Linked DNA regions of Homo sapiens. The protein of the gene in region 7 purifies or fractionates together with the protein of the main gene of each other region. This does not show direct contact. Each region holds a gene or a part of one and is shown on either strand. Other genes may lie near its edges.

Region 1 (3,500 bases), on a different chromosome or scaffold from region 7:
ACAGCTAGGAATTTATCCAAAATAAAATCATATGTCCACAAAAAAACTCATACAATAACAGCCAAAAACTAGAAACAACTCAAATATCTATTAACTGGCGAATAATGATGTATCCAACAACAGAACAGTATTCAGCAATAAAAAGGAATGAACTGCCGGGCACGGTGGCTCACGCCTGTAATCCCAGCACTTTGGGAGGCCAAGGCAGGCGATCATGAAGCCAGGAGTTCGAGACCAGCCTGGCCAACATAGTGAAACTCCGTCTCTCCTAAAAATACAAAAGAATTAGCCAGGCGTGGTGGCAGGCGCCTGTAATCCCAGCTACTCCAGAGGCTGAGGCAGGAGAATCGCTTGAACCCAGAAGGTGGAGATCGCATTGAGCCGCAATCATGCCACTGCACTCCAGCCCAAGCAACAGCGTGAGACTCTGTCTCAAACAACAACAACAAAAAAAATGGGGAATGAACTACTGGTACAGACAACATATGATGTACCTCATAAAAATTATGCTTAATGAAACAAGCCAGTCACAAAGCCAGTATATATGGTATAATTCCATTTATATAAAGTGCTAGAACACAGAAAGCTAATTTTGGTCAAAGAAATGAGACTGTAGTCACCTTGCAGGTGGCAGGGACTGAACAGTAAGTAATAAAGTTCTATCTACTAAGCCTGCTCTCATTAATGCTAGAGCAATACTAACAGCAATGTGTTCACCTAGCACCTAGATCTTGGCTTTAGCACCCGAATCTTGGCTTTAAAATATCATTTCCTGTGGCTGGGGGTGGTGGCTCATGCCTGTAATCCCAGCACTTTGGGAGGCCAAGGTGGGCAGATCACCTGAGGTCAGGAGTTCGAGACCAGTCTGGCCAACATGATGAAACCGTCTCTACTAAAAATACAAAAATCAGCTGGGTGTGGTGACGGGTGCCTGTAATCCCAGCTACTTGGGAGGCTGAGGCACCAGAATCACTTAAACCCAGGAGGCAGAGGTTTCAGTGAGCCAAGACCGCGTCATTGCACTCCAGCCTGGGTGACAAGAGTGAGACTCCATCTCAAAATAAAAAACCATTTCCTGGCTGGGTGCAGTAGCTCATGCCTGTAATTCCAGCACTTTGGGAGACCGAGGCAGGTGGATCACTTGGTCAGTTTGAGACAGACTGACCAACATGGCGAAACCCTATCTCTACTAAAAACACAAAAAAATTACCCAGGGCTGGTGGCACATGCCTGTAATCCCAGCTACTACGGAGGCTGAGGCACAAGAATTACTTGAATCTGGGAGGCAGAGGTTGCAGTGAACCAAGATCGCACCACTGCACTCTACCTGGGCGACTGAGTGAGACTCTGTCTCTAAAATAAAATAAAATAACATTTCCTACTAAAAGAAACCAGGGATCCTTGGAGAAATGGCTGATTCCAAGGCTGGGGCAGAGACAACAGATGACAGGATGTTCCAAGGTAATCAAACTATCAAAGAATGAAGTAATTGAAAAATGAGGGGACATGTAAAAAAAATACGCAGATCTCAGCAACCACATCCAGTCACTCCACTCAGCCCTTACCAAGTATTTTCTGCATGTCAAGGAGTTTAAACACTTTACTGATATTTAACTCCATATTTAATCTTTGTAACCACTGTGAAGTACTATTAACAATGAGGAAACTCAGGCATGGAAAGTAATGCAACCAGGAATCATGAGCATATATTATTTTTCACTTGTTCTAAGTGTAAAATTTTAGCAAATTCAGAGCTGTGCCACAATCTAACTTTCAAACATTTCCATAATTCCCAAAAGAAATGTCAGGCCCATTTGTAGTTACTCTGCGCTCCACTGTGCAACCACTACTTTCTGTCTCTATGGATGTGTCTTTTCTGAACATTTCATACAAATGGAATTACACAATATATGGTGTTTTTGTTTAGTTTCTTTCACTTAGCACAATCTTTTTAAGGTTTACTGCAATAGGTATCAGAATTTCATTCCTTCTTATTGTCAAATAGTATTCCGTGGTATAGCTATACTATACTTTATTCATTTACCAGCTGATATATATCTGGGTTTCTTACATTTTTTTGGCTACTGTGAATAACGCAGCTATGAACATTCATGTACAAGTTTTTGCGTGAACATACATTTTCATTTCTCTTGAGTAGACAGATACCTGGCAGTATAACTCCTGGGTCATATAATTCATTTATGTTTAACTTCTTAAGAAACTGTCAAACCAGGAGGGGCGCTGTGGCTCACAGTTATAATCCCAACACTTTGGGAGGCCAAGCCAGGGGACTGCTTGAAGACAAGAGTTCAAGATGAGCCTGGACACATAGACACGTAGGGTCCATCTCTATGAAAAAATTTTTATAAGCCAGGCGTGGTGGCTCATGCCTGTAATCCCAGCACTTTGGGAGGCCAAGGTGGGCAGATCACCAGAGGTTGGGAGTTCAAGACCAGCCTGACCAACATGGAGAAACCGTCTCTACTAAAAATACAAAAAATTAGCCGGGCGTGGTGGCGCATGCCTGTAATCCCAGCTACACGGGAGGCTGAGGCAGGAGAATCACTAGAACCCAGGAGGTGGAGGTTGCAGTGAGCCAGGATCACGCCATTGCACTCCAGCCTGGGCAACAAGAGTGAAACTCCGTCTCAAAAAAAAAATTTTTTATAAAAATTAGCCAGGCTTGGGTGGTGCACACCTGTGGTCTCCTAGCTACCTGGCAGGCTGAGGCAGAAGGACTGCCTGAGCCCAGGGGTTGGAGGCAGCAGTGAGCTATGACCATGCCGTGGCACTACAGCCTGGGTGATAGAGTGAGACCTTCCTTGTCTCTTTAAAAAAGAAAGAAAGAAAAAAAAGGGGTGAGGGGAGGAAATGAAAGAAGAGAAGGAAGGAAAGAAAATAAAAAAGACAGAAAAGAAAATTGCCAAACTGTTTTCCAAAATAGTTATATCACTTTACATTCCCACCAGCAATATACAAGTGTTTTTTTCCACATCCTCACCAATATTTGCTATTGTTTATTATTCTTACAGGCAAAAAAGTAAAAAATATTTTTAAGAGGCTAAAACTATATATACTTATTACTTTTTGCCCCACCGTCTTTCCTTTTTATATAAAATTCTGTCACCTTTCAAACATCTACACCTTCCATGACATAAATCAAAACTGAATAAAATCTGAATATGTTCAATAAATGCAGAAAACCATACATTTGCATAAATAACTGCTCTTACATAAAATTTTACTTCAAATTTAAAATGAAAGATTATATATACACACACAGTATGTACATAACATCACTTAGAAATGGCATACATACCTAATTTTAGTTCAATTGCTGTGTTGGTGTTACATTTGTACTCTGCCAGTTTCTTCTCCACTGCACTCTTATATTCTACCAAAAATTTCTCCATAGCACCAAATCCTAAGAGAAAAGGTTTTTAAAAGGTTTAGTTTGGAAGTGACTTAAATTGTCAAACCTGCAATAGGGTTATTATAAG
Region 2 (3,189 bases), on a different chromosome or scaffold from region 7:
TGGTTTTTGTTAATTTTGCCTCTATTCCAGCTCCTTACCACAGCGGTGGTGCTTAAAGAAAGGATCATCAGCAACAGGTCAGGATAGTTCTACCTTTGGGATAGGGCTGCTTTCCCCGTGCTAGTATTTCTGTGACTGTTAGTGGCACTGAGGACTGCAAACTTTTATGCAATATTCTTAATACCCTATTGATATTATGCACTTTAATCATTCCAAAGAAGCCAAGAATGCTGTATAGTGATGATTCCTTCCTAATGAATTCATCTTAACTATTTAGAATGTTATGTCCCTTTTCTTTTGGATAGCCAACTTGGTATAAATGTTATATGGATTTTTCTAAAATGACTATATAGGACTTAAGACTTTGAAATGTAATTTACTTATAAGGGGAAATAATTATGCTTTAGCACATCATTTTAGAAACGTCACATTTTAGAAACATTCAGCTTGCTAACCTACATGTTTGGGAATTCATTAAAACCAGTTGTCTATATATTTTGTGCCATGTATATAAGAACATTACAATATATCTTTTTCTACATATGTAGTATGTGCAACCAGTGGTTCTCAGAGTATGGTTCTCAGCCCACCAGCTAGTATCAGTATCACCTGGGAACTAGTTAGAAATGTAAATTCTTTGGCCCCATCCCAGACATACTGAGTCAGAAACTCTGGAATAGGGCCCCCGCAATCTGTTTTCACAAGCCCTCCAGGTGATTCTGATGCACACTTTAAAGTTTAGGAACCACTGGGCTAAGACTCTGTTGAGATATAGAGTTTTTCTTCCACTCAGACTGATATAGTTATACATTGTTCTTCATGTAAATTCAGCTTAACCTGGTTATCTATAATCTTTTATTGGCAAAAGTTAATTCTCAGTACTGCCTATAGAGATACAGTGTATTTTATGTACATACACAATTAGTCTAATTCTTGATAATTCAGTTAATTTAGTTTGGCATTTTCCTACCACTTACTAAAAGGTTTACATTAAATGACTGATTTAAATATATAGGTGCAATGTTCTATGTTTATTTTAATTGTTATGACATTTAAGTAGCTAATATAATTGACCGGTGCTAAAGTCTCCTGTTTATCCATAAAATGGGTACATTATGGGCAGTGTAATACAAGCTTTCTTTTCATTGCCTAGTACTTTACCAGCAGACCACAGTTTTGCCCTGGCTAGACCAACCCTCAGAACAAAATCATCATTCCTTGTATTTATATTTGTATCTGAGATAGTAAACAAGATGGCTGGCCAGGTCAACATGGCACCTTAACTTATTTTTTTAATAGGTAAAACTTCTTCAAAAGTAGCTTGCTTTGTATAAGAACTAAGCTATCAGTATAGATATAGCTATCCTTGGAGCTTATGTTTCAGACAAGAATTATTTACTAAAATAAATAATAAACAAGATAATGCATTATACAATTTGGGCATTTCTCGTTTCTCAAGTGTATGCATCATGGTAAATATAAACTAACCACAAGATAGGTAGATTGATTCATTTCATTTTAATCTCCTTGTGTAATTCAGTACCTCCATAATTGTTCTAATCTTCTTCCCACTGTTTACAAATTACCAGTTAATTAACTCGTGAAAGAAAAATTCACATATCAGAATAAAAATAAATGTATACTCACTTTATAAAAATCACCACTGCTGTCTTTCCTTAATACTAGCAGTGGAAATGTAAGTGGCTTACTCTACAAATTTTGGTGCTGGCAAATACATAGGCAAACTGTTGGGAGCTGCTCTAGTTACATTCCTCCCTTCTTATTCCCTTTTTCTCTTCCTCACTTTATTGCATAACATATTCCTGTACCCAAAGCATTCTACCACAGTTCTATTTGACTCCCACTTGTAATAACTCCTTTAAAAAATTCCATGTTTAACCATATGACCCTGCTTGCTTACTCATATTCTCCCTCCCTCTCCCCTTCCTTTCTCTCTCTTCCAGAAGTCATTTGCCTGGTTTGAAATATTTTGTAGGGATTGCTTATTATATTATTTTAGCTGATGAACCTCAGGACAACGTCTACACACACACACATACATACACGCACACAAAATCTCAGCTGTTGAAGAGTGGGCTTGGAATCAGACTTCTGTGTCCAGTAAAAAACTCCTGCACTGAAGTCATTGTGACTTGAGTAGTTACAGACTGATTCCAGTGAACTTGATCTAATTTCTTTTGATCTAATGAATGTGTCTGCTTACCTTGTTTCCTTTTAATTGATAAGCTCCAAGTAGTTGCTAATTTTTTGACAACTTTAAATGAGTTTCATTCACTTCTTTTACTTAATGTTTTAAGTATAGTACCAATAATTTCATTAACCTGTTCTCAAGTGGTTTAGCTACCATTCTGCCATTTTTAATTTTTATTTAATTTTATTTGCTTGAGCACACTGATCAACCACTGAACTGCCTTCTTCCATTGTCCTGCAATGATATAAGGGTTACATTTTTGTGTATATGGCTTTCATAGTTGGGATTTCAGAGCACTGATACCAGATATTTTCAGTTTGTTCTCTGGGGGAATTTCATTTGCATCTATGTTTTTAGCTATCTGTGATAACTTGTTAAATATTAAAAAGATATTTTGCTTCTATTGGAACATTTGTATACTCGCAACTATATTTCTGTAAACAGCTGCAGTCAAAAATAAAACACTGAAAGTTTTCATTTTGCAGTGGATAGCTGTCTTTTTTTTCCTCAAACTTTGTGAATGGAATTGTGTGCATGAACGACAGTTTTGAGCAGCATGAGTATATGGCTGAAATTATAAAATCATTAGGGAGGAGGTGTGAAATATAGACATATTTCTGAGTAGTTATTTTGTGCCTACCATTTTGCCAGGTAGAGTATAAGTGACTCAGTGTGACAGAATTTTTGTTTTACGTATAATTTAAATGTTTCATGTTTAGTAAAGCAATACATATACACGGAGGTGCTTTTGATGAAAACCAAGTCTCCCCATCCCTTAGTCCCATGCCCAGAGACAATCTCTGTTTATTCTTTTGGTGTTATTTCTACATCTCTAAATTAGCGCATATCAGAGTGTGGTACACAACTACCCGTGGTACGTGGATAAACACTATTTTTAAACTTACATGTATAAGTGTTTTGATGCGTAATAGAAAAAAATATAGGCTGGGCTCAGCGGCTCACGCCTGTAATCCCAG
Region 3 (3,500 bases), on a different chromosome or scaffold from region 7:
AGAGCAGGATGAGTCGGCACAAACAGCTGTGTCTGGGTCTGGCCCAGAGCCGGACGCACAGCAGGTACTCAGCCCCCGCCCCCACCCCTCACACACCTCACAGTGTTTCACTCCCTCTCGTGGCCACAGCTTTTTAAGAGGCTCCTTTTGAGCCACTTTTTTTCTTTTTCAAAGCTAATGGGCAACACATTCTCCCAAAGAGAAACTCAGCATTTTGGACGGCTCCAGCAATGTACACAGTCAACCAAGGAATCTTCCCCTAGCCTGGTCTTGGCGGGGCAGGGGATTGTCTGGGGTGGGGGAGGGGGTGGCAGTGGCAAGGGCCGAAGAAAACCTCAGATGTTAAGTGTTATCCAATTAAGCTGTCGCTAAACAACCCAAAGAAGCGGGATTGGGAGGCTGGGGAATGCATTCTGGGAGCAAGACTCTCAGAACGGGTGGGGGCACCGTGGGGGACTCCTGACCGAGGGGCACCGGGCCCTGGCTCATAGTTCAGCGAACATTCTTTACCACTTCCCCTGGCACCCCAAAAAGCCTTCTGGGTGGGAGCTGCCCTTCCTCCCTGGGTCCCCACCTTGCTCCAGCGCTGCCCATGGCACACCCCGCCATCCCGGGGGCCCGCCCCCCACCGCGGCGTCGTCTGTTACCTGACAACTGACACTGGCATCCAAAGGGAGCCTCCGTCTGACCCTCACCCTGAGTCCCGTCACCCGAGACCGGGCGCGCGCTGCAGCACGGCAGGGGGAGGCAGGGCGGGAGAGCGCCCAGGGCACGCAGAGGTGAAGTGATCACGGATGAGTGAGGGTGGGAGGAGGCAGCTATGGGGGCCACCGCTGGCAGCTGGGCAGGCCTGCACGGCCCTGGAGAAAAAACAATAGAAAAGACTGGTCAGTCGGGCCCTGGACTGTGTGAGGGGCACGGGGTGGGACGGGGCTCGGGGCGTGGGGCTCTGCTCAGGCCACCCTTCGGGGGTGGGAGGCCCCCGGGGTGCCAGGCCCTGCAGGGAAGGCAATCGGGACACAGGCGAGGGAATGGGCTCGGGGAGGTGGGCAGGGGGCACTGGGGAGGGCCCGGTTTCCACAGCTGCCAGGCTGGGCTGTCGGGGAGGCAGGACCCCGCCTCTGGGGGCCTGGTGCAGGGGGCTGGGTGAACGGGGGCTGTGAGGACCCACTCTCAGGAAGGACCCCCCACGTGGGGGCCTCTGGAGCAATCAAATAGGTTCCATTTGGGGATTTGTTTCCAAAACTTCGGGCTACCCCTCCCTGGAAGAGCTGGGAAGCTCACAGCCTCCCCTGTTTGCTGTATCAGGATGGGCTGTTCCTACAGGCCCGGGACACCTTGGGTCCGCCTCCAGCCTTGGGTCCGCCTCCAGGTGTCTGGGCTCTGTTAGCCTCCTGTCTGGCAGACCACCAGCTGGGGGCTCTCTCCAGCCCCAAGCACTGAGCGTGCTGCACCCAAAACGCAATGCCCTTCAGAAGGCTTTCACACCCCCCTACCACACCCCAAGAAAACCCTGGCGCTGCTCACCCCCTCCTAACGTCTCGGCCTGGCTTGGGAGGCCTCCCGCCATGTGACAGCAAGGACACAGGGCCAGGGCCGGCCCCGCCTCTGCCCAGCCCCACAGCTCGCTCAGCTCCACAGCAAGGCCTGCATTTGATTTAGCCGTTTATCTTAAATGGCTAAGAGACCACCAGGGCAAAACATTTGTGTGAAGCCCTTGCCAAAACCACAAGTGAAGAAGCCCAAATTCCCTGGGTAAATAATTGAGCAGGGAAGCATCAGAGAGACAAAAAGGAAACGTCAACAAGAGGATGGGCAGCTGGGCCCAGCCGGCTTTGCCAGGGAGGCCCAGCACAGGTCTGCACGGGTGGGAGTCTGCCCACTCCAGGGCCCCCACGTGGATTCCCCCATCGCAAGGAGAGCCACAGGACCCTGCAAGCCACCAGGAGCCAGGAGCCTGTCAGTCTTCATTGGACTGAACTTCCTAACACACTGACGGGAACTGGGGCTTAGAATACCCATTGCACAGACCAGGAAACTGATGGCGTGACTGCAGAAAACTGCAGACATCAGCAGCCCCATCCAAACCCCAGCTGTCTGGCCCCAGAACCAGGGCTCTTTCTCTGTAGCCCTGGTTTCTCTAAAACATGGGTTATCCAGGATCAAGGCATCAGGGCATTTAAGAAGACCCCCTGCTTAGGGATTGCAAGCTGTCAGTGTCCTGTCAAGAGGTCAAAGCTAACACCAACACTGCTCGGAACCCCCTGAACCAACAAAGACCTCATACTAGGTGAGGCCTCGGGCCCAGGGTATTTCTGAGCTGGGGATAGCCCTGGAAGGATGTGGCTGAGGAACCAGTAAACAGTTTCAGCCTCAGATGCTGAGGGGAAGGCCATGCTAGATTTAGTGCCATCCCTCAAGGAAGGTCAGGACCTGCCTCCTCCTGGAAGCCTGCCCTAGCCTGAACCTTCCAGCACTGGACACTGCATTTGATCCTGTCCACTGGTGGTCTCAAATCCCTATGTAGGCCTTCCCTGCAGACCACCGAGGGCTCTGGGTCATCCATCATCATGACAGCCACCTCGCTCAGAAAAGATCCACATTCCACTGGGGGAAAACTGAGGCTTAGGGAGATCTGAGACTGGAACCCAGTTGTGTCCCCGAAGCCCGCAATGCTCTGCTTCCCTCTAGGGCTGCAGCTGGGTAAGTGACCAGGGGTCCTGGGATCTCTAGAGCAACGGCCACATAGTGGGCGGAAGTCTGAGATCCCTGGGCTCAATCCAGCCATTGGAAGCTGCAAAGGCCAAACCCAGGCTCTGGTTCCTGGGTTCTGGGTGAGGCCACGACACAGCCAGCACCATTTATCACTACTGAGAAACCAGCAGAAGCAGCTCGAGGCCTGGTAAGGGTTGTCCCAGGTGCTAAGAAGCTGACTCTGTCTCCGTGGTGGGAGGAACCGTTGCAGAGCAGGTAGAAAACAGGCATCTGGCCACACCCTTCTCCTGGAAACGTCCAAGGTGGGGCTCAGACCAGGGTCTGTAAAGGCGATGTCACACACCACACGTTGTTCCCTGCATAGGGGTCAGGGGGTAGGCCGCCCTGGACAGGTTTCCCCAGAGTCTCATTAGCAATTGTGACCTTGCTGAAGTCCACCTGCTCCAGGGACCGGCTCAACTGAGGCAGGGGAGGGGGGCAGCCGGGAGAGGGGCTTCAAATCCCAAGCTCTACAGGGCCTCTCTGGGGCTCCCAGAGCACCTTCTACACTGGGAGAGGTTTCCACACGGGGCAGCTCAAACCCAGAGCCCTTCCCAAGGGTGGAACTCAAGAAATCTGAAGCTACTGCAAAAGCCCAAAGTGATGAAAGGAGCCACCTACGGCATGACTCCATGGATACGAAATGTTCATAAGAGGCAAATCCACGGACACAGAAAGTAGCAGTTGCCAGGGGCTGGGGGGAGCCAGTAGGGGTGTGAGGGGTGGCTAATGGGCACAGAGTTTCT
Region 4 (4,068 bases), on a different chromosome or scaffold from region 7:
ATGCTATAGTGTTTGTATTAGTGCCTGGTACATGGTACTCAAAAGACACTAGCTGTAATTATTCTTCAGGACTTTATTTTTTTTACTTTCATTGCTAGCAGTTTTTCTACCCTCTCTCCTGCAGGCATTCTCCCAGAAAAAAGGCTGACTCTGTGGTGCCATTTGAGAGAAATAGGTTCAGTAGATTCTTCCAGAGATGACAAACGAAAAGACTTGATGTGGAAGTAAGAGAAGTAGGGGCGTCAGGACACTGAAGTGAGAGATCTTTTGTTCTCGTGGCATTGGAGAAGCCAGGAAAGAAAAAGGCTTTAGCAGGGACCAGGTGCGTCCACTTTGCAAGTGGATTTGGAGAGAACAAGCAGTGTTCACATATCAGTCCAGCAATGTCTCAAGACTCCTTCCTGGAACAGTCATCAGTTTAATCCAGTGAGGATGGTGTCTCTCTTCTTTCATGAGCATTTTCCTATTTCTGAAATATTAATAAATAGGTGCTTTGTTCCTAGGAAGTGGAGAGAAGTCAAGGAAAATACTCATCATACTCCTAGAAGTCAAGGAAAATACTCCTCGTACTCCTCATGGCCGCTGGAGCCCGCTGCTATGAGGTTATGGAGAACGTCTTGAACATTCCATTCCCCAGCACCTAGTGCAGTGACTAGCATAGTAGGCACTCAAAAAGTGTCTGTAGGATTGTATTTCAAACTTTAGTTGTCTTTCCCAAAGAAGCCTGTCGTGCCCACACGCGGCCGCAAGAAGTCCGCGCCTAGAAATAACATTTATTCTAAGGATCTCTGCGCAGAGATTCTTGGGAAGCGGTTCCCCTCCCGCATTCCCTTGTTACTCCTCCCCTCGGCCGCCTTTGAAAGAAGTGGCACGCCACATGATTCCATCCTTTCTCCCACCTCCAAAGACCTGGCTGATAATGGGCAGGAGCGTAGGCCAACCATAAAACTTTATTTCCTCTTCCAGCCAATAGCAAGAGGCGATGAGTATATGGCTCCTCTTTTGTGACTTCCCCCGCCCCCTTTGATTCCGCCCCCTATTCCTCCACTCAGATTCCACACTTGACAACACATCTGGCCAATGAGAAGTTCCTACTCTGCGTGGGAAGGATGGACTGACTAGATGATAGACGTCCATCCCTGGCCAATGGAATATCAAAAGTGCGGGAGGGGTGTAGAATGCAACCAATGGCGAGGTGCCAGAAACGAGCATCAGGGAAAGGGCGGGACGAAAGTGTTCGCGGGAGGGAGGGGAAGGCCCAGGGAACCAAGCAGCGCTGTCGCCGCCGCCGCTGCAGCCGGAGTTGGAGGAGGGAGAAGCTAGGAAGAAAATGGCGGCCGTGGCTGCAGAGGCGGCAGCGACTGCAGCGTCCCCCGGGGAGGGGGGCGCCGGCGAGGCCGAGCCGGAGATGGAGCCCATCCCCGGCAGTGAGGCCGGCACTGACCCCCTCCCGGTCACGGCCACTGAAGCGTCTGTGCCGGATGGCGAGACTGACGGGCAGCAATCCGCTCCTCAGGCCGACGAGCCGCCGCTCCCGCCGCCACCGCCGCCGCCGGGGGAGCTCGCCCGCAGCCCAGAGGCGGTGGGGCCGGAGCTGGAGGCTGAGGAGAAACTGTCCGTTCGGGTGGCGGAGTCGGCGGCAGCCGCGCCTCAGGGAGGGCCGGAACTTCCACCTTCTCCTGCATCGCCGCCGGAGCAGCCCCCGGCTCCCGAGGAGCGCGAGGAGCCGCCGCTGCCTCAGCCCGTAGCCCCGGCGCTCGTGCCGCCGGCGGGCGGGGACTCCACGGTGTCGCAACTGATCCCGGGCTCGGAGGTGCGGGTCACGCTGGACCACATCATTGAGGACGCGCTTGTCGTGTCGTTCCGCTTCGGGGAGAAGCTCTTCTCCGGGGTCCTCATGGATCTGTCCAAAAGGTACCGCGCCCGCCCCCAGCACCCTCCGGTCCGCTGGGTCCCCAGGGAGGGAGTGAGCCCGGGCGGCCCCCTCTCCCCGAGCCCTCGCTTCCCCGCTGCCCGGGGCCCCGCCCTCTGGTCCTGCGCGGCGCGTGGCGCGCGCTCCGAGTGGGGCAGGCGCGCGAGACCGGGAGAGGGCGGTCCCGGCCCCAGGTGGGCGCCTGCGGGGCAGGTGTGCCACCAGGTGGGAGGGTGCAGGTGCAGATGGGCTCACAGGTCTCACCCCTCACGCCTGGTCTTCTTCTGCGACTTGGCCTGGAGTCACCGTCACTGGGCGGGTGGGTTAATGCAAGATGCAGATGGATTTTTGCAGAGAACGGAGTGTTGGACGGGGGGACGGGGGGGCGGGGGGCATTGCTTGCGAGGAGGCACTTGTCTGTCCTCTAACGTTTAACTTTAGCGGGATTGGAGAAAGGGGTGTGTACATTGGGGTTCCCAAAAGGTTACCTGTCACTCCTTACAGGGGGAAGAGCATTTGTTAAAATGAACCTTTTAACTGTAATTCTTACGGTTAGAAGTCATTCCCGTTAGGTTAACCATTCAACAGAGAAGCATATTTTGCTAATTTTAATGATAGTTTAAGAAAAGTTTAAAGAAGAGATTGGAGATTTTTAAAAAATCCTTTAATGTCAAGGTGGTGTAGCATAAAAATGTTCAAGTAACTTCTAACACCTGGGATTCAGTTTATGTATTAAGGACAAGAAGGTTGAGTTCATCTACAAATTTGGCTTAACCACATTTTCATTTTTTGATTTAAAATGTTTTTGGGCTCTGCTTTCAACAGGGGAAGAGAACCTGTTCTAAGTCTGGAGTTAACCTTTTTATTCTCTTCTTTTGCAGATATGAAGTGCAGAGACTCCCATTCACGGCTTTCCATTCTGTTTCCTGCAACAGCACACGCTCTGATCGTATCTCACCTGTTTGCAATGGCTTATTAGTATGTTTTACTCTTAAACTTGCTTGCTCTCCCATCAAGACCCAGGAATCCTTCTTTCCCATTTGGGGAAAAAAGCCATTTAAAATTTCATATTGAAGTATGGTGTTTGAGGGGAAAGATGAGAGCAGTTATTCTGTATTATTTAATCTCAAATATCTTTTTTTTTTTTTTTGAGACGGAGTCTCACTCTGTCACCCAGGCTGGAGTGCAGTGGCGCCATATCGTCTCACTGCAACCTCCGCCTCCTGGGTTCAAGCGATTCTCCCGCCTCAGCCTCCCAAGTAGCTGGGACTACAGGCGTGCGCCACCATGCTGGTCTAATTTTTGTATTTTTTAACTAGAGCCGGGATTTCACCATGTTGGCCAGGCTGGTCTTGAAATCCTGACCTCAGGTTATCCACCCGCCTCAGCCTCCCAAAGGGCTGGGATTACAGGCATGAGCCGCCGTGCCCGGCCTCAAGTATCTTTTTTAAAAATAATTTTGGATTAGGGCATTTGCACTTCTGTTTATGTTTGTTTGTTTACTTATTTAATAGAGACAGGGTCTTGCTGTGCTGCCTAGGCTGGTCTCAGACTCCTGGGCTCAAGCGATCCTACTGCCTTGGCCTTCCAAAGTGCTGAAATTACAGGCGTGAGCCACTGTGCCCGGCCTGCACTCCTGTTTTCATAATTAGAAAGCAGAATAAGGTGAGTGTGCTTTCTATTGATGTATTTTATTTATTTATTTATTTATTTATTTTTGAGACAGAGTTTCGCTCTTGTTGTCCAGGCTGCAGTGGTACAATCTCTGCTCACTGCACCCTCCACCTCCCTGGTTCAAGTGATTCTCCTACCTCAGCCTCCCAAGTAGCTGGGATTACAGGCATGTGCCACCACGCCTGGCTAATTTTGTATTTTTAGTAGAGATGGGGTTTCACCATGTTGGTCAGGTTGGTCTCAAACTCCTGACCTCAGGTGATCCACCCACCTTGGCCTCCCAAAGTGCTGAGATTACAGGCATGAGCCACCTCGCCCGGCCTCTACTGATGTATATAATAGTAAGAGACACTCTGGTGTGTATGCTGTTGAATGAAACAGAAGAGATGGCCAGTGATTGTGTGAGAATCTGGATTTCAAATCTGCAAAAGGAAGGTGCAGAAGGTAAGTTGTTTTTGGAAATGGAATGGATAAGTGCTCAT
Region 5 (3,500 bases), on a different chromosome or scaffold from region 7:
CTCACTTTGAGATGTGACCACACTATTTATGTTCAGCCAGTTCCAGGGTGGGAACAGGTGATTAAACACAATGAAAGAAATCAAGACTTTGTAATTATTCATGCACGAAAGGTTTACCTCACCTGGGTCACAGCACTTGTTGTGCGCCCATTGAATATCTTAGACATCTTAGAGAGCTTTTCGTCTCAGTTAAATGATTGATTATTAGCGCTATAAAATATATTTTAAATTTGCTTTTGGTTTTGGCTTCTCTAGGCTCTGCTATTATACTTGTTCTTTAAAAAAATAATAACAGAACCTTTAGACAACCAGGGAGTTCAAGCAAATATCTCTTATTTCCCTACATAGATTCACAACTATAGCAGTAAAAGTCTTAACTATATGTAAGGCCTTCCCCCCAGCATTTAGATTCCTCCTCTAAATACAGAGGCACAGAATTTTTGAGCTGGTTAATCTAAGACTGAATAACCTATTTGGGACCTCAGTAAGAAGTGTGGTTTTAATTCTTGCTTGACAGACACTGTGTTTTGTCTTTTAAACGAGCAGCTCGATATGTAAATACGATGTTACATCACGCAAGTGTTACTCCATATTTGGTGATTTAGCAAGGCTTTGGATCTCCGAAGACGACAAATCCCCTTCCGCCTGCTCTTGCTTCATTAATCATGCCTTACACTTCTGTTCATTTTCCTTCCAGTCACAAGACAACACATGGAAATGGTCATTCCCACATCCTGCTGGGGGGTAGGGGAGATAAAATCTTCACCTACATGTCACATAAGGTAAATGTGGTGGATTCAAGAAATACACTCCACAAATGCAGCTTCCCTAGCAGCAGATTTCCCATTTCACTAAAGGGAAAGTATCTGAGTGCTATCACAGAAAGCACTAAAAAAAGAAAGAAAATGCCATGTTTGGTTTTAATGATCAAATTCTAGAGGGGGAGAGGAGAAATAATATGACATTTAATCCCCTCTAGACCACTGACCTATTATGGTTCAACTTTGTGGTCAAACTAGGTCGGAGAGACAAGTTCCAGTGAATCAATTCATGATATGCACTACCTTTCCTAAAACTGAACAAACCTCTTGCCTTTCGGGAGCTGGGTGGTAGGTAGATGGAAGAAAGCGATCCACCAACAGGCATGGCATGTCTGTCATCACAGAATCTGCATTGACTTTTGTCTAACATGCTCAAGCAAAAAATGTTTTGAGGGTCACTATATAGTGTTACTGTTTATCACTTAGAGAAGGGAATTTAAGTCCCACTGCTAGCCTTTAATTCCTTTTCCCTTGAGCTGCCGAGAAACCCACACACCTAGCTGCCTCCCTGCTAAAATTAACCAAAGGAGGGAGGGCTGTTGAATACGTGTGTGTATTTTTCCAAGAAAATTTTTACATTGTGTTATAGCAGAAACAGTGGAGTCTGGACTGGACATTTGTAAGGGTGACATGTGGCTGTGTAAACCACAAACAAAATCAAGATACATCTGTCAAAACCACATCAGAGACAAGAGAGAGCACAGAGAAGCATTTATCATTTAGCTGAGGAGGCAGGCTGCAGGGAGCAGCCGTTCCTGTCAAACCAACCTTTTGAAATTTCCAACATGCCCTTAAACTTTTCGAGTAAGCATGTCTGTGCGCTTCAGCAACTGCCCTCTCTACTCTGGCCTGGCCAGTCGAAAATGGCATCTTAAAGTCAAGGTCATGGTGTCATCCCACCACGGGGCTGTGTTTAATTACAGCCCCATCCGGGCTGACAGCCAATATGGATCCAAGGCTAGCCCTGAAGCTCAGTTAACTCTTTCCACCACCTCCAACTACCCTGCCAGCCCACTCTACTTCAGGGAAGCCTTGAGAACGAGCTGAACCCCTAAGGAGGCCTGGCCAGATGTTCTGAGTCAAACAAGTCATTGGCTGAACTGCAAATGCCTATATGGCCACTTTGCCTCTGACACGTCACCAAGGCTGGAAATGGACAATGGAAGCTGGACTAGGTGTAGTAAAGCTCAATACTTCAAAATGAGAAGGTGGGGATGGGGAAGAAAAGAAATCCAAAATCGACAGATCCAGAGAGAAGGTGTCTGATGTGTGTACCTATCCTGCCTACATCTGATTCAGTGAGGTGGAAAATATTTATTTTTCTGTGTTCTGGACGTAAGCAACAGAAATGATTATTTTAACATTACAGGGCTGTCATGGACAGTCACATAGAGTAATAGAGAAAGCACTTCACAACTCCTTACTGCTTGGCTACAGCACCTCTGAAAATGAAAAGAAAACATGCAAACAGCTTTTCTCCTTGCTTCTCATTTACCTGCTATGTGTTCCTGTTTGGGGCAAATTCCTCTAGATGACGTTGATAAACAATCGTCATCCTCTGGCGTGACCTGGATGCCAACCTCCACGGGATTGGATGCTTTTTTCATCTCGATTGGTGAAGGGGAAGGTGGCTTATCCACAGCTTTTTCTAAGCAGAGGCTGCCATTGCATTGTTTCCGTTTGTGCTCGATAAAAATAAGAATGTCCCCCAATGGGAAGTTCATCTGGCACTGCCCACAGGTGAGGAGGTCATGATCCCCTTCTGGAGCTCCCAACGGGCCGTGGTCTGGTTCATCATCTGTAAGAATGGCTTCAAGAGGCTCGGCTGTGGTTGGAGAAACAAAAGCACAATTATTAGAGTGCCAGAGAGGACAGAAAGGGGAGAAGCACATCTCAACCCCATGCCATCCCACCACATCATGTAAAGTGTTTCTAGGCTTCTCTATATAATACCCAGAAAATGTGAGCATACAAAAAGTACAAGGATGTGAAGGTTATCAACCAGAGAGCAAATTTGTCAATGAGGCAAATCATCACATATGTAAAGAAAACAGTCTTCCTTGCATAACTCCAGAGAACACACACACACACATATACCCATGCACACACCCACAGCAACAAATGTGTCTGGTTTGTAAGTTTAGAAAGAATGCTACTTAAATAGTTAACACAGGGAACATAAAGAAAGCTTAAATAATAACTACAAGAAAAACTGGTTAAAAAAAAAAGTGGATAGAAACCAAATTTGTTTCTTTTTTCCTATACACCAAGTTGTCCATTGTGCCAAAGAATGAAAGGAGAGGTGAATAAACACACACACCCTTTGTGTGTGAATGTATATACTCCTAAGTAAACAGACATGGCTTCATAAATTAGAAAGCTACTATGTCACATGAAAAATGTGCCACATTTACACTGCTGTAATAAGAAAACGACTGCATGCACCTATGAAACGGATCTAAATAATAATCATGTCGCAGCATAATTCACACTGCCAAAAACCTTTCTGCTCTCACTCTCAGCAGTGCCACAAAATCAAAGAAATACCAAATGCACGGGCAGTATTTCTCAGACACATTAGCTAAATGGGATACTTTTGAGTACTTAAGAAAATAAGCCAATTAGTCATTTTTTTTTTATTCTGAGAAATGGAATGCCTATAATATTCTAAACATGTTT
Region 6 (3,500 bases), on a different chromosome or scaffold from region 7:
CTTAAATCTTAAAATACAGTATCATCTTGTCTCAAAATATTTTCAGTGTCATGGTATAGTAATGTAATAAACACTCCTCTCTTCACTCACAGGGATCTAGAAAACTGTATTTTGTGCTAGTAGCGTATAAACTTTCTCCCCAAAGTAAGCAGAATTTGGGAAAAATATATAAACATATGCACATATATGTGAAATAGTTTATTAACTATTAAAAGTTGATATGTATTCTAATTTCTCAATAAATTGTAAAAGGTCAGGGAACGTGTACCATATACAGGCAATAAAACTTTGTTTCACTAAAAAAATCTTAAAAGATCAAAAGATATATACATCATTCTAGATAAAGGAAAAAATAAAGACTATTTATTTATTCAAAGTCACTTTCCAACCACAGAGTAGAGAATACTTGATTGCTAATGAAGGATGCATAATTAATAACCCAGAAAACTTACAGAAGAGTTCATTAACATAAACATAAGAGTTAGATAAATTCAGACTACAAGCTGGAAGGAGGCCAAAAACTTTCCATTTTATATTATCCTCACTGGAATGTTATTTTTAGAGTTGTTAAAACATTGCCTACCTACATTAGATGTGGCCTTAAACATTAAGTCTTATAAAATAGCTATCAACAACCAAAAAATATATTTCATCTATACTTATTTTTATAATATTACTGCAAAAACAACCCCTCAGAGGAAAAAAAAATCCATTTCAACCACCTGTTAAATTCTTGAAAGATCCAAGGTTATAAGAGTTTAGTTAAAATTAAAGCTAAAATATGTATTTTAGTAACTAAAAATTAAATAATTAAATGTATTATAGCAAGCAATATGTAAGTATAACTAAGATTATGCTGCTTAAATATGTGATATCTTCATGCATTGGACAAATATTCTTCCCTTTAAAGTGTATTGACATATTACACATTTCATTAATGTGTAGCATTTATTCATATGTCCAAAGAAGGAGAAAGAAACAAAAATACGTCAATCTGGCTTTGTGACTGGATTTCTCTCAGGTCACAAAGCCACAGTGGTATTACCACTGATATTTTCACCTCATAAATAAATATTTCTAGCTTAAAGCACTTTATTATGGGACAGAGAGCACCGAACCAAAATGAGATGTGACTTCTAGTCCTAACTATGACATATAGCTTCCCTGATCCTTTATTTCCTCATCTGAAAATGAGGAGGTTAATTTATTCAACAGAAAATATTGTGATAGATTGTATATTAAATTATTTTCCAATTCTAAAATCAATGATTCTCTATGCATTATATATATACATGTATTTTTTCATCTTTAACATCTCAACTATAAAAATTAATTACAGCATTCACTATCCTATCCAAGACTACATTTACCATTTTCTCTTCATATTCTGGGTCCATTTCCTTTTCAGATTTAGGCGCTTTAGCAGCAAGTTTGAGTTGAAATGAAGAAACGTTTTTCTAGAATTTCAAAGAAAATAAATGTCACCAAATTGCAAAGCAAGGTTCTTAAACTGGTCAATGCTCTCATTAGAAGAAGGCGGAAAGTAATTACATAACTAAATATATAAATCAATGTGGGACATGTATGGACCAATGATGAGAGCATGTCACAAAACAAGGCTTATGATTAATCCAGTTCTGTACACCTGAGGTCCAATAAAAAAAATCTGAAAAATTGTGAATGCCAAAGAAATATTAATTGGAATAAAACCCAAAAGGCAAGACACTGAGCTTTCTCATCCATTCTTTAATTTATAGTGTAAGAAAATGTGTAAACATTAAATAAGAGATTTTAAAATCTAGAAAAGGCTAATATCAACCACAAACCAAATAATTCAAAGAAAGTAAATATTAATTCTAAGAAACACTCCTTTATGTCATGGAAATACGCCACACTTTCAGAAAAAAAAACTGTGGTTTCTGTTCCTAAAACGATATTTTTAAAATTGTTTTCATAGTATTATAAGAATATTTAATTTTTTATGTAATGCAATGTGATCACATATACTTAATATAATAGTACAGTTTTAAACTTTTGGCTTATGTTAATTTTCTCTAACTGGGAAGAAAACTACTTTAAACTATTTATATTGCATAAACATCTTGTAGAAGCAATTTGTCAAGGCTACTTAACTATTAATGTTTGATATTTTTAAATTGTAATTTAGCGAAAACTAACATCAATCAATAACTTAATATAGAGATTATCTGGGGAAGGGGGTTATCTCATGCACCCTATCCTTTGTAAAGACAAGCCTGTACTGGCAAATATAAATACATATATAGAATAAGCCTCCTTCCCTATAAGAAACCAAGAAATAAAATAATAAAAACACAAATCTACCCACCAGAACCAAAGATGAGAGCATTTCAGTTTTAACACATACTTTGCATAAGAGAAAACACAAATTTGTTCGTGAAAACTATCATGGCTTTTGTCAACCTATTTATGAAAACTTAGGTCAAAAATCAACAGAATGTGACCTTAAACATAAGAAAAATATGGCCCCCATTATGTCTTCCAATATTTACTAAAATTTCTATTTTGAGGAAATCCAAACTGAGATTATGGAATTTGACCTTGTCCAGACTCTTACTTTGTAGCACTGATCAGATATCATTCAGTTACACTAACCCAAATAATAACCATCTTGATTTACAGCATCTGATACGTACACATCTATATGGAATGTTTTGAATGTAATCCTGGATGGATGAGAATAGAAAACTGCTAAAGAGCCCCTCAAACTCACACTTTCAGACTGCCATATATAATATAAATCATATTTATTTTCAAAGCAACAAGAAAAATTGGGTATCAAATCCATACGTTTATCATTCATTCCTTGAAAGGTTATATGAAGTGCAGTTTTCCAGTATCAAAACAATGAAAATTACTTTGCCTCATACGCACAAATATATATAATAATGTGGGAAGTACACTTACAGAAAATTAAAGCTTTAATCCTAGAAAAACATTTTACCCATTACTTTTTTGCTTACCTTGCGGTAGACTACCATCAAAATCTAATTATATGCTAATTAAAATCCTAATCTTGAGCAGGGCTATTAAAAGCTGTGGGTAATTACTTAATTGGCACTATCTTCCACAACAAATTTTAAAATACCTACCTTCTAAACCTTCTCTCGTGTGTGTGTGTGTGTGTGTGTGTGTGTGTGTGTATTCTCAAAACTACATTTTTTTCATACAAGAAAAGATGAAAAGTGACTAAGAGACTCTAATGAATTCCTTTGGATTTTGTTATCTGAGTCTAGGTGCCATGAGAATGCAGCACAAGGTCAACAAAATGGCTTGTTTTAAAGACCATGACCTTTTTCTTGACGTTTTCATGTCTACAGTGTTGGGTAATCCAACCGTCACTTAAACCAACTAAATTCAACAACCAGAAAGTAAGCAAAAACACCTTTGAGTAGGTAAATGTCACAGGTCAATTCACTAATTCTCATCTACTGTATTCATCATGAAAGCGCTCTCATTCA
Region 7 (3,500 bases):
CAATCATACAATTCCAGAGACAAAATCGAAGCATTTGAAAAGGCAAAATAGCAAACAGATAAATGGTTAAATGACTGCTGCAGTAAGAGGAACTGATGATGAGGACCAAAACAAGTCACTGAAAGTAGAGATGGAAGATCTTGAAAAAGTGTAGCCTGAAAATGATTAGTTGTAACATACTTTGAATAGTTATTAAAAGCTTAAAGTGTACTTTGAAACTTAACAATGAAAGGCTTATTGCTGGCTTTTCAGACTTCTCTCACAAGTTAATTTAAAATTGGACTGCCAATGTAGAAGAGCCTCAAAAAAGACACCACAAAAAACTGAGTACCTTGATAATGTGATTTCCTTCTGGTTTCTGATAGAGTTTTATTCTTCTCTTCTTTTGTAGCCACCCCAAATCTTCTAACATTTCACCACTGAAGGATGACTCCACCAGAATACCCTTGTCACAAATACTCATCGGTTCTTTTTTTTGTTTCTCTACATCTTCACCTTTTGAATGAACATAAATCAGGAACTGATTGCTTGACTCTGAACTCATCAATGTAATACTCCTTTCGGAAAAATTTTCAATTAAACTCTGTGCAGGAAGAAGCTGAAGAGTTAATTCTCCTAGAAATGCTTTCCAGGAATTATCAAAATGATAGGGAGAAATCACAATATTTAACTTTACAGACAAAGGGGAAAAAATACCAACAGTCTCTTCTTTTTCAATTGGTTTTGAGAAGCTCACCACTTTTGAACACCTCTTCTTATCTCTGTGAGCCACTTCTTCCTTTAGACTATCACTTAGAATGATATAATGAGCAGAAGAGGTATCTGAACCTGGGCAGGGCTGCTCGTCATCATCACTTATGATGATAGGTTCATTCCTTCTGTCCTCATGCATATTCCAATGAAGCTGCTGCCTCTTTTCCTCATCTACCCTCACTGGAGGAGCACGTTTCCGTCGGCTGCTCATTTTCAAGTTTTCTTGGCTGGTAACTGTGAACTCTAGAGGACAAATGAAACAACAGGAGGTATAACAAGAGATGATTTAGTATTTAAGGGTTACCAGATGAGAAATTCAGCATAAATTCATAGCCCATAAACATAATATGAAATCTTCTGTGAGATATAAGGCAATGAGTAATTTTTTTACCAGGTCATTATGACTAAGGAATGAACATATTAACCATAATCTCATTTATCAAATAAATTCTAATGGTTTTGCTAGTCTTTAATAGTAAAGGCAATTTGTTGTATAAAATAAAATAAATTGTAGAAATACATTTAATAAGCAATATAATAGGAAGGTAAATCTCTCAATCCCAAGTAATTTAACTGCCCCTCAGAACAAAGCCCAACAATACTTAAAAGAGCGAAACAAAATCCAACACAAATGTCTGGCATCAAATCTAAAATTATCAGGCACGCAAAAAAAATGAAAATAAAACAGAAAAATAAGACCCATTACAAGAAAAAAATCAAAAAGCCCCAGAAAAGACACAGATGATATAATTAGCAGAAACAAACATTCAAACAGCTACTGTAAATATTCTCAATATGTTAAAGGTAGAGGAAAACATGAATATGACAAAGAAAAATGATAGATATACAAGTGACTCCTATAGAATTTATGCAGATGGAAATGCAACATCTAAAACGAAAAACACATTGTATGAGATTACCAGCAGATTAGAAATGGCAAAGAAAAAAAGAAGCAGAATAAGCTTAAACAATGGAAACAACAGTAACAACAGAAACTGTCAAAAATGAAGTAGAGATAAACAAAGACTGAAAAAACAATAAATAGAACATCAGAAACCTACTAGACAATGTTAAGGAGTCAAACATGCATAAAACTGGAATCTCAGCAGCAAAGAATGGAAAGGATACAAAAAACTTTTTGAAAAAATCATGCATGAAAATTTTCCAACTTCTATAAAAACCATCAACTCAGAAAACCAAGAAGCTCAATGAAACCCAATCAGGGCAAACATAAAGAACAATCACAATAAGGTATGCCATAATTAAATTACTGAAAAGTGAGGACTTCTCTCCAGATTGGCCCTATTTCTCTGGTTTAGACACTGCTCCCACCCCACAGCTCTAAACCCAGCAAAATATCTTTCAAAAATGAAGGTGAAAAAAAGATCAACAAAAGCCAAAAGGACTTATCACCTGTATACCTACAATCTAAGTAATGTAAGAAGCGCTTGGGTAGAAGAAATATGACATCAGATGGAAATCTGGATCCACACACAAGGAAATAAAAAGCAAAAACAAAAAATATGTGTATAAATATAGTAAACTTTTTTCTTGATTTTTAAATTTCTGTAAAAGATAACTTACTATACTTTCATTCTGAAAATTTTCAAGCATACATAAAAATTTAGAAAATAGTATAACAGTATAATCAGAGATCTATACAGTGTACTATGTTCATGGACTAGAAGACTCAAAATGTTCAGATGTCAATTTCTTAGTACTGACCTATAGAAAAGCAATCCCATTCAAAATTCCAACAGGTTTGTTCTGTAGAAACTGACAACCTGATGTTAAAATTTATACTAAAATGCCTACAATACAGGAAAGTCAATATAATTTTAGAAAAGAAAAATAAAGTTGAATGACTTACACTGATTCCAAGACATATGTCAAAAGAAATAAAAATGGTGCAGTAGTGGTGTAAAGACCAACATATAGATCAAGGGAAATGTCCTGTAGTGGACCCACACATGGATGGTCAATTGATTTTTGAAAGAAGTTCAGAGGCAGTCAATGGGAAAGGTATCCTTTTAGTAAATGGATACCAATATGCAATGAAATGAAGCTTTACCTCCTAAAATGTAAGAATTAACTAAAAATAGATAATAAACTATAAAAGCTAAAACTAAAACTTCTCAAAGAAAACAGAGGAGAAAACCTAAATGACATTGGATTAGCCCAAAAAAAAGGCACAAAAATTTTTAAGCAGGAAACAAAAACCATAGACTATGTAAGAATATGATAAACTAAGTTTCATCAAAATTAAATATTTTGGTTCTTCAAAAGATACTGTCATCAAAATATGACAGCAAGTCACAGATGGGAGAAAATATTAGCAAATCAAGTATCTGATGAAGGATATGTTTGCAGAATATATAAAGAACTCTCACAAATTAATAGTAAGACAAACATTTAAAAAAGTCAAAAATTTTGAATAGACATTTCACCAAAGATGACCTATAAGTGTAAAATAAGCATATGAAAATATTTTCACCAGCATCAGTCATTAAAGCAATACAAATTCAACCCACAAATCACAATGAGATGCCACTATTCATATACTAAAATAGTCAAAAATTTAAAACACTGAGAGTATGGCTCAAACAGAACTGAACTCTCCAACATTTGAACACAGCACAGTCACTTTGGAAAAGTATCAGTTTCTAATAAAATTGAATATAACTTACTATGCAGCCTAGTAATCCCTCTCTTAGGTATTTATCCAAGAGAAATCAAAACATAAATCC

What was found.
Region 1: the proteins of SHPRH (region 7) and HAT1 purify together in Homo sapiens (affinity purification with mass spectrometry, with the first as the bait; one large-scale study listed by BioGRID). This does not show direct contact.
Region 2: the proteins of SHPRH (region 7) and NFAT5 purify together in Homo sapiens (affinity purification with western blotting; one study listed by BioGRID). This does not show direct contact.
Region 3: the proteins of SHPRH (region 7) and BCL11B purify together in Homo sapiens (affinity purification with mass spectrometry, with the first as the bait; one large-scale study listed by BioGRID). This does not show direct contact.
Region 4: the proteins of SHPRH (region 7) and PWWP2A purify together in Homo sapiens (affinity purification with mass spectrometry, with the first as the bait; one large-scale study listed by BioGRID). This does not show direct contact.
Region 5: the proteins of SHPRH (region 7) and BCL11A purify together in Homo sapiens (affinity purification with mass spectrometry, with the first as the bait; one large-scale study listed by BioGRID). This does not show direct contact.
Region 6: the proteins of SHPRH (region 7) and SMARCA1 purify together in Homo sapiens (affinity purification with mass spectrometry, with the first as the bait; one large-scale study listed by BioGRID). This does not show direct contact.

The regions. Positions count from the first base shown.
Region 1 is NC_000002.12:171,925,461-171,928,960, reverse strand, and holds part of HAT1 (histone acetyltransferase type B catalytic subunit), read right to left. Parts: intron 3,425-3,500; coding exon 3,320-3,424; intron 1-3,319. UniProt on the Homo sapiens protein: Histone acetyltransferase that plays a role in different biological processes including cell cycle progression, glucose metabolism, histone production or DNA damage repair. Coordinates histone production and acetylation via H4 promoter binding.
Region 2 is NC_000016.10:69,701,966-69,705,154, forward strand, and holds the end of NFAT5 (nuclear factor of activated T-cells 5), read left to right. Parts: 3' UTR 1-2,689; downstream 2,690-3,189. UniProt on the Homo sapiens protein: Transcription factor involved, among others, in the transcriptional regulation of osmoprotective and inflammatory genes. Binds the DNA consensus sequence 5'-[ACT][AG]TGGAAA[CAT]A[TA][ATC][CA][ATG][GT][GAC][CG][CT]-3'.
Region 3 is NC_000014.9:99,230,698-99,234,197, forward strand, and holds part of BCL11B (B-cell lymphoma/leukemia 11B), read right to left. Parts: intron 861-3,500; coding exon 648-860; intron 1-647. UniProt on the Homo sapiens protein: Key regulator of both differentiation and survival of T-lymphocytes during thymocyte development in mammals.
Region 4 is NC_000005.10:160,116,651-160,120,718, reverse strand, and holds the start of PWWP2A (PWWP domain-containing protein 2A), read left to right. Parts: upstream 1-1,268; 5' UTR 1,269-1,330; coding exon 1,331-1,914; intron 1,915-2,793; exon of another isoform or gene 2,794-4,030; intron 4,031-4,068. UniProt on the Homo sapiens protein: Chromatin-binding protein that acts as an adapter between distinct nucleosome components (H3K36me3 or H2A.Z) and chromatin-modifying complexes, contributing to the regulation of the levels of histone acetylation at actively transcribed genes.
Region 5 is NC_000002.12:60,543,655-60,547,154, forward strand, and holds part of BCL11A (BCL11 transcription factor A), read right to left. Parts: intron 2,647-3,500; coding exon 2,317-2,646; intron 1-2,316. UniProt on the Homo sapiens protein: Transcription factor. Associated with the BAF SWI/SNF chromatin remodeling complex. Binds to the 5'-TGACCA-3' sequence motif in regulatory regions of target genes, including a distal promoter of the HBG1 hemoglobin subunit gamma-1 gene.
Region 6 is NC_000023.11:129,516,991-129,520,490, forward strand, and holds part of SMARCA1 (SWI/SNF-related matrix-associated actin-dependent regulator of chromatin subfamily A member 1), read right to left. Parts: intron 1,658-3,500; exon of another isoform or gene 1,586-1,657; intron 1,458-1,585; coding exon 1,371-1,457; intron 1-1,370.
Region 7 is NC_000006.12:145,954,359-145,957,858, forward strand, and holds part of SHPRH (E3 ubiquitin-protein ligase SHPRH), read right to left. Parts: intron 997-3,500; 5' UTR 965-996; coding exon 332-964; intron 1-331. UniProt on the Homo sapiens protein: E3 ubiquitin-protein ligase involved in DNA repair.